2 separate regions of the Homo sapiens genome follow, and region 1 is linked to region 2. The links come from fine-mapping of genetic effects on gene expression. A gene starts in region 2. The other region holds a variant in brackets. All regions are shown on one strand. Distances are between the middles of the regions. Region 1 overlaps LOC101929710 (a long non-coding RNA gene). Region 2 holds the start of GPR150 (G protein-coupled receptor 150).

What was found.
Region 1: its variant is fine-mapped to the expression of GPR150 in whole blood (INTERVAL, PIP 0.95).

Annotation. Positions count from the first base shown.
Region 1 is chr5:95,989,516-95,995,018 of GRCh38, forward strand. The region is part of intron 1 of LOC101929710 (a long non-coding RNA gene); the gene reads left to right. The region is part of intron 2 of LOC105379096 (a long non-coding RNA gene); the gene reads right to left. It also overlaps a transcript of CAST not described here. Among named protein-coding and RNA genes, the nearest start is that of ELL2, 30 kb to the left of the region's middle. The variant G/A (reference allele first, on the strand shown) is at 2,983.
Region 2 is chr5:95,616,725-95,621,982 of GRCh38, forward strand. It overlaps GPR150 (G protein-coupled receptor 150), which reads left to right and starts at 3,363. Exons shown (of 1, transcript NM_199243.3): 1 at 3,363-5,258. The coding sequence starts at 3,552. The coding sequence ends at 4,856. RefSeq lists enhancers at 2,919-3,534, 4,731-5,230 and silencers at 3,704-4,103, 4,194-4,243, 4,261-4,555, 4,264-4,713, 4,934-4,993.

The DNA of each region.
Region 1 (5,503 bases), 370 kb after region 2:
ACTGCTAATTGCTGAACATTCTTAAACTAGTAAATAGGCCTGATTACCTGGACTCCAAACAGTAAGTCAAACAGACCAGATCACTTTTGATAAGAACACTCTATTAACCTTATATATTCCCATTGGATTATCTTCCAGGGATATGAAATGTTAAGTTATAAATGTCTTCTTTTTTTTTAATTTAGAAAGACTTTAGGAAAAATTGTTTGGGATATTTGAAGGTAAGTTAAAGATCATTATGTCCAATGTATGATTTAGTAGATAATTATCAGGTACTATACCATTAGCTGAGAGGTCAACAGTAAAGATGAACCCATTCAGAACAGAAAGTCCTGATTTACAAGATCTTGTTGTACCCTGCCATGTCTGTTTGGGTAACTGCAAGCAAACAGTAATAACTCTAACAAGGAAACAGTGAGCTTTTAATAAATAAAATGTAACATGAGTTCTTTATTAGACCCTTAAATCTCAAAACTAGAAAGCTTTTTAGAATAAAATTCCACTTCTACTCACCCTTTGAAATATTCACTGGAAACACAACTCTAAGATTCCTTCCATTTTCCAGATTCTAGAGCATTCATGTTAAAAATAAGCTTGAAATATTTTATTTAATAATTTAAAAATTATTTTAATTAAATCTTGCTGATGTGAACCATGTCTGTTCCCTTAAGCCTAGAAATGGAGTCTGGAACACAGCAAAAATGACCAAAATATAGTATCATGTCCAGAGTCAGGAAATGTCAGTTTTAGAGAATTGCCAACTTGCTTTGTGAGCTCACTTAGTTTAAAGGAAGTTTCCTTATCAATAGGAGATATAGGGAGTTTAAACAATTTGATGAGGAAGTTTCCTTATCAATAAAGTATAGGGGCAAACTAGTATTCTGAAGTTTTTTCTTTTCTGGATCAAAAATTCAATAATAAGGTTTGTTTTTATAATATTAAAAATATCTTACTGTTTTCTTGGCTTACTATTGAAAAATAGTAGAAAGAAGAAAAAGGAAACATCTACAGTCCCACCAGTCACCTTTAAAATTATTATATTATCTTCTAGTCTTTTTGTTCTACACTTAAAAGAAATTAGAGTTGAGCTCATACAGCATATTATATATGCTTAACATTATAATGTCAAAAACTTTTTATAAACATTTAAAAATGATTATGTGAATATAAGCATTTATCTTCTTATTGGATATTTTACATAGTATCATTTAAAAAATTAATTAATTTTTTATCTTTATTTTTAGAGATGGTGTCTCACTGTCACCCAGGCTAGAATGCAGTGGTGTGATCATAGCTCACTATAGCCTTGAACTTCAGGGCTCAAGTGATACTCCCACCTCAGCCACCCAAAGCACTAGGATTACAGGTGTGAGCCACCACACCGAGCCCATTTTAGAAAAGTATTATAAGCAATGCTTTTGTGAAAATATTTGTACTTAAGGGTCACTCTTCCTTCTAACTCTAATTAGTGTTTTCTCCACAGGAGAGAGTCCCAGAAGTGGAAATACTAGGTGAAATATATGAATAGTTTAAAGGTTCTTGTGCATTTGCTTTCCAAAAAAGTTAACTGTATTACCATCAAAAATTTATTGCTGCACAGAAAGATGCCCACTTTGCCACAACAAGGACATTGGATAATTTTCATAAAGAATTAAATATATGGTTCTCCTATGCTTGGTCTCTTAAGATTTGAAATTTTAACCAAGTATGAAGACATCAATTCCATATAGTCTATTCCTTTCACACAGAGAAAAGCTTTGTTTCACGATCACAGGCTGTGTGTCTACCAGCTGTTAGTGAACTTTAAGATTGCAGGTTGGCTTAGCACAGATTGTTATGATGACCATACTCTAAAGGTATTTTAAGGATAATAAATTTGTCTGTTTTTTCCAGGCTAGTTAATGGGTACAAACATACAGTTTGATAGAAGAAATACATTCTAATGTTCAGAGTAGAGTGACTATAGTTAACAACAAGTTTTGTTTTTTTTTTTTTTTTTTTTTTTTTGAGACAAAGGTCTCACTCTGTCACCCAGGCTAGAGTGTAATGGTGTGATCTGGGCACACTGTAACCTCTGCCTCCAGGGCTCAAGCGAGTCTCCTACCTCAGCCTCCTGAGTAGCTGGGATTATAGGCACGTGCCACTGCTCCCGGTTAATTTTTGTATTTTTAGTGGAGACGGGATCTCACCATGTTGGCCAGGCTGGTCTCGAACTTCTGAGCTCAAGTTAGTCACCCGCCTCAGCCTCCCAAAGTGCTGGGAATACAGGTGTGAGCCACCGTACCTGGCCAACAATATATTTTATATTTCAAAATTGCTAGAACAGAGGACTTGAAATGTGTCCAACCCACAGAAATTATAAATACTCAAATACCTGACTTAATCACTACTTATTCTATGTGTGTAACAAAATATCACTTGTACTCCATAAATATGTACAAATACTATGTTTCAATATTTTTAAAAAAGTATTTGAGGCAATGTTGGGCTCTATTTTCAGTAACAGATGAATTAGATCTCACTGAACTAACCTTCTGCAGGTAAGAACTATAGACTCTGGGAAATGACATTAATAATATGCAGCAGCTACTTAAAGGTTCAGAAGAGTGAGCAGAAGCATATGGATCTTGACGAGAAATCCATGCTTGGAGGAGGCAAGGGAAATTAAAGAAAATTCTAAAGAGAATTCTCTAAATGGATTTTATGGATTGGAAAACTCCGTGTTATTAAAATGACAATTGTCCTCCCAACCGATACATAGAATCATTTCAATTCCAATCAAAATCCTAGCAAGCATATAAAAAAGAAATTGACTTTAACATTATCAGTGATGTTATGTGGATATCAGGTGTCTCCTGATATTATGTGATGAGAGGGGTACTTCTCTATGCTTTTTTTTTTTTTCCTTGAAAACCCATGGGCCTAGTCTAATCATGAGAAAAACATCAGATAAACCAAACTGGGGGACATTGCACAAAATAC[G/A]TGATCAATACTCTTCAAGATTGTTAAGGTCATGCATGAAAAACAAGGAAAGGCTGAGAACTGACACAGACCAGGAGATTGGAGAGACAGGATGACTAAATGCAATGTGATATTCTAGATTAGATCTTGGAACAGAAAGAAGACATTCATGGAAAACTGGTGAAATCCAAATAAAGTATTTAGTTTAGTTAATAGTGATAATGCCAATGTTGGTTTCTTAGTTTTGACAGATGTACCACAGTAATGTAAGATAATAATATTAGGAGAAACTAAAACTGGGTGAGGGGTATGTGAGAACTATACCACTTTCACAAATTTTCTGCAAATCTAAAATTATTCCAAAATAAAAAGTTTATTTAAAAAAATTGTTGAGTTTATTCTAAAATTTACGGAAAGGCAAAGGACCTAGAAAATTCAAAACAATTTTGAAAAAAAATGAGGTATTTAGACTTTTTGACATCAGTGTAGTGTGGGAAGTAGAAAACACACTTTTTAAAAATTAAAATAGATTTCCTGATTTCATGACTTATTATACAGCTATAATAATCAAGACCATGTTATCAGCATAAAGATAGAGATATAGCAATGCAACACAATAGAGAGCTCAGAAATAGAGCTTTACTTATATGATCAACTGATTTTCAGCAAAAGCACCAAGGTAATTTGGTGGGGAAAAGGATAATTTTTCTAACAAATGACACTAGAACAATTGAATATCTTTATGGAAAAAATAAACCTTGATCCTTACCTTAGACCCTACACAGAAATTAATGTGGATTGTAAATTTAAATGTAAGGGCTAAAGCTAGAAAATTTAAATGTAAGAGCTAAAGCTAGAAAAAGAATTATAGGAGGAAATATTTGTAGTGTTGGGTTAAACCAGTGGTTCTTGCCAGGGGTGATTTTGTACTGCAAGGGACATTTGGCAATGTCTGGAGACATTTTTGGTTATCACAACTGGAGTGGAAAGGGTGCATTTGCTAGCCAGTGGGTGTGGCCCAAGATGCTGATAAACCTCCCACAATGCACAAGACAGCCCCTGCAACAAAGTTCAGTATGTGCCAAGTTTGAGAAAGCCTAGGTTAAGAAAGGATTTCTTAAATCACAAAAATGACTCTTACAAGAAAACAATCAACAATGGACTTCCCCCAAATTTAAAATTTTATTTTGTGAAAGGTACATTAAGAAAATGAAAAGGCAAGCCACAGACTGGGAGAAAGTATCTGCAAAACACATTTGACCAAAGGCTTGAATTCAGAATATATAAAGAACTCTTACAACCAATAATAAGAAAACAACTTTGGGCAGAGGATTTGAACAGACGCTTCAAAAAAGAACATCTATGTTTGCCCAGTAAGCACATGAAAAGGTACTCAACATCACTAGTTATCAGGGAAATGCAAATTAAAACTAATTTGCATTAATTTAAATTAAATTAATTTAAATTTAAATTAATTACTTTAAATTAAAGAGATACCACTACAAACTCACTAGAATGGCTAAAATTAAAAGCCTGGCAATCTCAAGCATTGACAAAGATGTGGGGCAACTGGAACTTCCTACTTTGCAAGTGGGTCTGCAAAGTGTTCAACTACTCTGGAAAACAACTTGATACTGTCCATAGTAAGCATATGCTAACCATATGACCCAACACTCTCCTATTTTGTAGGTATTTGTCCAAGAGAAATGAAAATATGTGTCCATACAAAGAGTTGTGTGTCAGTGTTTATAACCACATTACTTGTAATGGTGTCTAACGAAACAATCCAATTATCCATCAACTGGGTAACTGATAAACAAATTGTGGTATAATCATACTATGGATTTCTATTTTGCAATAATAGAAATATTGATAACATGGATGAATTTCAAAAACCTTATGTTAAAAGAAATCACAACATTATATTCCATGTGATTCTATTCATAAGAAATTCTGGAAAAGGTAAAACTATAGGCTGAGGCTGGGTGTTAGGGGGAGGGTGGAGGAGGATCAGTGCAAAGAGGAAATTTTTTTGGGTGATGGAAATATTCTATGACTTGATTATGGTGATGGTTACATGACTATATACAATTCTGATAACTCATCAAACCGTATATTTAAAATAACTGAATTTTATGTTAAATTTAACTCAGAAATATACATTGAAAAAGGAATTTGAGACTGAAATTAATAAGACACTATTAAAAGAAGATGAACCAAATAATAAAGGAGAAAAAGTTAATTGTACCTAAAAGTTCAAGATAATTATTGCAGTTGAGCACTAAATTTAGCTTCCAGATTCCTGGCAGATGATACAAAAATGAAAACTGCATGTGCTATATACTTTTTATTATGCCATAAATGGAAAAGTCAGAAACCTGTCAAAAGACTACACATTTTAACAAGCAGAAAGGAGTAATTTTCTGTGAGAATCATCACATAAAGGACATTAAATATCACACTGGGCAATATTTTTCAAAAAACTTTTAAGAAGTTAGAAATATTCTTCATATGGCTGACTCTCATACTGACCATGAATAAA
Region 2 (5,258 bases):
TAGAAAAACATTTTTGTAAAATTGGTTAGAAAAAAGAGAATAATAACAAGCTTCTAGAAAGAAAAAAACAATGATCATATCTAAGCAAAACATGAATCAGATGGCTTCAGTCTTCTCAACACAAACACTCAGAAGCCAGAAAGGGAATGGAGTAATGCCTTCAAAATTCAGAAGGAAAAGATTTTCAAAAATAGGATTCCAAACCCAGCCAAATAATCAGTTAGGCAATAGGGTAGAATAAAGAAATTTTCAGACATGTGGGATCCCAAATAGTTACCTTCTCTCAAGAAGTCACTGAAAGGTGCTTTCTTCCCAAGCAAGAAAATAAACCAGGAAAGAAAAAAATCCATTAAATCAGAAAACAAGAGAACCAGCATGAGATAAGTGAAAGGAATCCCTAGGACGATGCTGACGTGAGATGCCAGGATGACCGCTGGCCCAGAGGGCAACATGTCCAGACAGAATCTGCATGACTCAAATAAGGAGTACAATGAGGTCTCTTACCACTTAGTTCTCAGGCTTTGTACAACCTTGTAAACCTTATGAAATATTAGATGATGTGTTCTACCAAAAAGGAAGAAATCAAGGAGAAAGACCAGAGATCCAAGAAACAGGAACTGCAACCCAAGAGAAAGGCAGAAAGTTTCAATGACGACAACAAATGGAGGTCCGCAGATGGTAGTTATGCAGTAGGCCTTGGGAGAAATTAGCCCAAATAAGAGAAAAATGAAAGTCTCTGGTAAAGAGGTTTCCGTGAAAAAAAATTGGAGCTGCTATATTACGTTTTGAAACTGACCTTGTGGAAATTGCTTGGGGGGACTATTTGAGGGTACAGGAAGAATTAGCTATGATAACAATGAAAAGTAAGAAAAGGCAATTATTAACTTTAAAAATAACAAAAAATAATATTCACAATATACAACTCAACTGTGAATATTTTTGTTTCATAATAATATAAACACCAAATATAAGTCTAACCCAAAATTACAGTATTGTTCTAATGGTATGGGAAATGGAAATAGTGACAGAGGTGCGAGAGATAAGTCTTTAATAAGAAGTTAACAGATAATATATCAATTTGTTAAATCAATGAATAGCATTACATATATATTATTTACTATTATGAATTAAGTCAATGCCAGAAGAAAGAGCAAATAGAGTCTAAATTGGTTCCCTCTAGAAAGAGGGGATAAAGAAGTGGAGATGTATAGGACAGGGAACTCTTTATGTTATCAGCCTTCTAGTTCCATTTGACTTTCAAAACTATGTGCATTGTATAATTTTAATAAGAATTAGTTTAGGCCAGGCCCAGTGGCTCATGCCTGTAATCCCAACACTTTGGGAGGCCAAGGTGGGCAGATTCTTGAGCCCAGGAGTTTAAAACTAGCCTGGGCAACATGGCGAAACTTAGCCTCTACAAAAAATACAAAACTTAGCTGGGTGTGGTGGTGTCTGCCTACAGTCCCAGCTAGTTGGGAGGCTGAGGTGAGAGAATCACCTGAGCCCAGGAAGTCGAGGCTGCAGTGAGCTATGATCATGCCACTTCACTCCAGCCTGGGCAACAGAGTGAGACCCTGTCTCAAAAAGGGAAAAAAAAAAAAAAAAAAGAATTTGTTGAAAATCAATGTTTTATCAGATCTTACTAAAGTTCTGTGAAATTTCACTATAGTCATTTTGAAATGCTAATATATAAGAGCATTTCAACAAATTTGAGACAAATGATAGACTATCTTGAGAAACACTGAAATGATACTGGCTAGGAAAATCACTGAATGATGAACATTGCTCAGAGAAGGCTCCCTGGAAGAAGTGCATTATAAACTGGGATGATGTGTGTGCATAGAAAAAGGCCTTGGATAAAAAGTTCTAAAGGGAGAGTATGAAAATCAAACCAGGATTTTAGATTTTCCAAGGCTATCACTCTAGCTTTCTTAAATGTCCCACCAGGAACACTTATTCCTATGTCTCCACAGAGCTTCCTTGGGCTCCTCTGGACAATACTGGCATAGTATAAAAGGAATTTTTTCTTAGGTGATGGATTTATAGTCAAGGCAGGCATTTATGCTCGAAGGTATCTGAAAAGCATCGTATATCCACTAATTCATCAACTCAACACATACCCACTGATAACTACAACCTGTCAGACCAGAGCGAGGCACCACAGAGATGATGATGAAAATAACCAAGGTTTCTGGCCAAAGGACAACAGCTTGGGAAATGGGATTCCTACAGCAGCTGGCAGGACTATCATGGAACCCACCAAATCTTCCTAGGCCATGAATCTTAAAGTTCCAAATGTTTCCTCAGATTGGGAATGTGAACCCTAGACAACACTCATACCTCCCTGGCCCCCAGGCCAGGAAGTACAGGAAATTCTACTTTCACCATGATTAACGTGGAGGGTGCATAAAAAGACAAATGGATGCTTCCAACAGGGAAACTAAAATGTGTTTGTGAGGAGACAAGGCTAAAATGAAAGCAGCAACATTTAATCTAAACCATTTCCTGTGACTTGGATTTCTTTTTTAAAAAAATTGGCCGCCTTATCACTTTCTTAGTCACCTTTTCTCTAGGCTTATTGGAGGCGTAGCCCCTCCTAGCAACTTCCCATCTGCTGGAAAACAGAATCAAGAGAATGAGGAGTGTGATGACGCATCCTTCACTGGATGAAAATATTAGGAGAAAAGCAATAAATGCACTACCATTTGCATAAAACCTATTAATGCCCTCTTCAGACTAATGAAATGAATTTTACATCACCAAGAAAGCAGCTGTGACCCACTGCTCCTAGTATTTGGAACGATCTGCAACACTGCCACTCCTAAAAGCAACATCATTGACTTTAGTACCCTCTAATTAAAATACTTTCATTCTTGGACAGAGAAGACACATCTTGATCAAAATTCAGCTAATAGGTCTCCTCTTTGCTCAAAACGCTGTTAGGTTTCTTGTGTTCCTGTTTTTCTCATGCTCGTGCAGATCCATGGCATTTCAAACCTTTAAAATAAAAACTAATGTCTTTTCTATTTTTTTCCTACTGGCAATCACATTGGGGTGGTGGGGGCGTGTGGTACAATCTCAGTCAAGAGGTCCTCTCTTGTGTGGGTGCTGGCATAACACTGGCCGTATACAATGGCCAAGCAAAGCGACATTCTGTCCTGCTGTGCTTTACACGTAAATAGAGAATGGATGAGGTTCTCAGCGCCCAGGGGTCCGCGGCTTCCGCGAGGGTAGCGTCGGGGGCCGCTGCAGAGATTGGAAGAGTACCCGCCGGGAATGGGAGGGAAGACGCGGGGAAGGTGGAGAATAGGAATCATGTGTGTTCCTCGAGTGTACAACCCACATTTGAGTGACAAATCACGAGGACAATCGACAAAAACAACTAAGCGCAAAGCCGCCCGAATCCATCTCCCTCTCTGTGCGTGTGCCTTTTCAACTAACTTTGGGAACTCGTATAGACCCAGCGTCGCTCCCCGCGCCGCCTCGCCTCCACTTTGGTTTCCCGCGTCCTGCCCGCCCTCTTCGGTGCCTCCTCTTCCTCCGGGACAAGGATGGAGGATCTCTTTAGCCCCTCAATTCTGCCGCCGGCGCCCAACATTTCCGTGCCCATCTTGCTGGGCTGGGGTCTCAACCTGACCTTGGGGCAAGGAGCCCCTGCCTCTGGGCCGCCCAGCCGCCGCGTCCGCCTGGTGTTCCTGGGGGTCATCCTGGTGGTGGCGGTGGCAGGCAACACCACAGTGCTGTGCCGCCTGTGCGGCGGCGGCGGGCCCTGGGCGGGCCCCAAGCGTCGCAAGATGGACTTCCTGCTGGTGCAGCTGGCCCTGGCGGACCTGTACGCGTGCGGGGGCACGGCGCTGTCACAGCTGGCCTGGGAACTGCTGGGCGAGCCCCGCGCGGCCACGGGGGACCTGGCGTGCCGCTTCCTGCAGCTGCTGCAGGCATCCGGGCGGGGCGCCTCGGCCCACCTCGTGGTGCTCATCGCCCTCGAGCGCCGGCGCGCGGTGCGTCTTCCGCACGGCCGGCCGCTGCCCGCGCGTGCCCTCGCCGCCCTGGGCTGGCTGCTGGCACTGCTGCTGGCGCTGCCCCCGGCCTTCGTGGTGCGCGGGGACTCCCCCTCGCCGCTGCCGCCGCCGCCGCCGCCAACGTCCCTGCAGCCAGGCGCGCCCCCGGCCGCCCGCGCCTGGCCGGGGGAGCGTCGCTGCCACGGGATCTTCGCGCCCCTGCCGCGCTGGCACCTGCAGGTCTACGCGTTCTACGAGGCCGTCGCGGGCTTCGTCGCGCCTGTTACGGTCCTGGGCGTCGCTTGCGGCCACCTACTCTCCGTCTGGTGGCGGCACCGGCCGCAGGCCCCCGCGGCTGCAGCGCCCTGGTCGGCGAGCCCAGGTCGAGCCCCTGCGCCCAGCGCGCTGCCCCGCGCCAAGGTGCAGAGCCTGAAGATGAGCCTGCTGCTGGCGCTGCTGTTCGTGGGCTGCGAGCTGCCCTACTTTGCCGCCCGGCTGGCGGCCGCGTGGTCGTCCGGGCCCGCGGGAGACTGGGAGGGAGAGGGCCTGTCGGCGGCGCTGCGCGTGGTGGCGATGGCCAACAGCGCTCTCAATCCCTTCGTCTACCTCTTCTTCCAGGCGGGCGACTGCCGGCTCCGGCGACAGCTGCGGAAGCGGCTGGGCTCTCTGTGCTGCGCGCCGCAGGGAGGCGCGGAGGACGAGGAGGGGCCCCGGGGCCACCAGGCGCTCTACCGCCAACGCTGGCCCCACCCTCATTATCACCATGCTCGGCGGGAACCGCTGGACGAGGGCGGCTTGCGCCCACCCCCTCCGCGCCCCAGACCCCTGCCTTGCTCCTGCGAAAGTGCCTTCTAGGTGCTTGGTGGTCAGAGACGGGTCATCTGTCGCTAAGGCGCAACCTCCAGGGAACTCGAGGCCTGCCAGGGTCTGTCCAGATCACAAGGGGCAGGAGAGTCTGTGAGAGAGTGACACTGAAGTTGTCCCCTTCCTCCACTCTCCTATTCCCTTCTCATGTTTACATTTCCCTATGCTCTTCCAGTTTCTCTTCTTCCCTACAGTTCCTCTCATATCTCCCCATTTGGAGACAGTGAGCCACTGGAAAGTTGTAAAAACAAAAACAGTTATTTTTGCAGTTTTCTTTCACGCATTTATAGTGCTCTGGATAATGCCATTTATTTTTGCTGATTACCCAACTTTCAGTATTTGCTGTGTTATCATCTGTATTTACTTATTTTGAATCGTGCTTAAATCAAATGT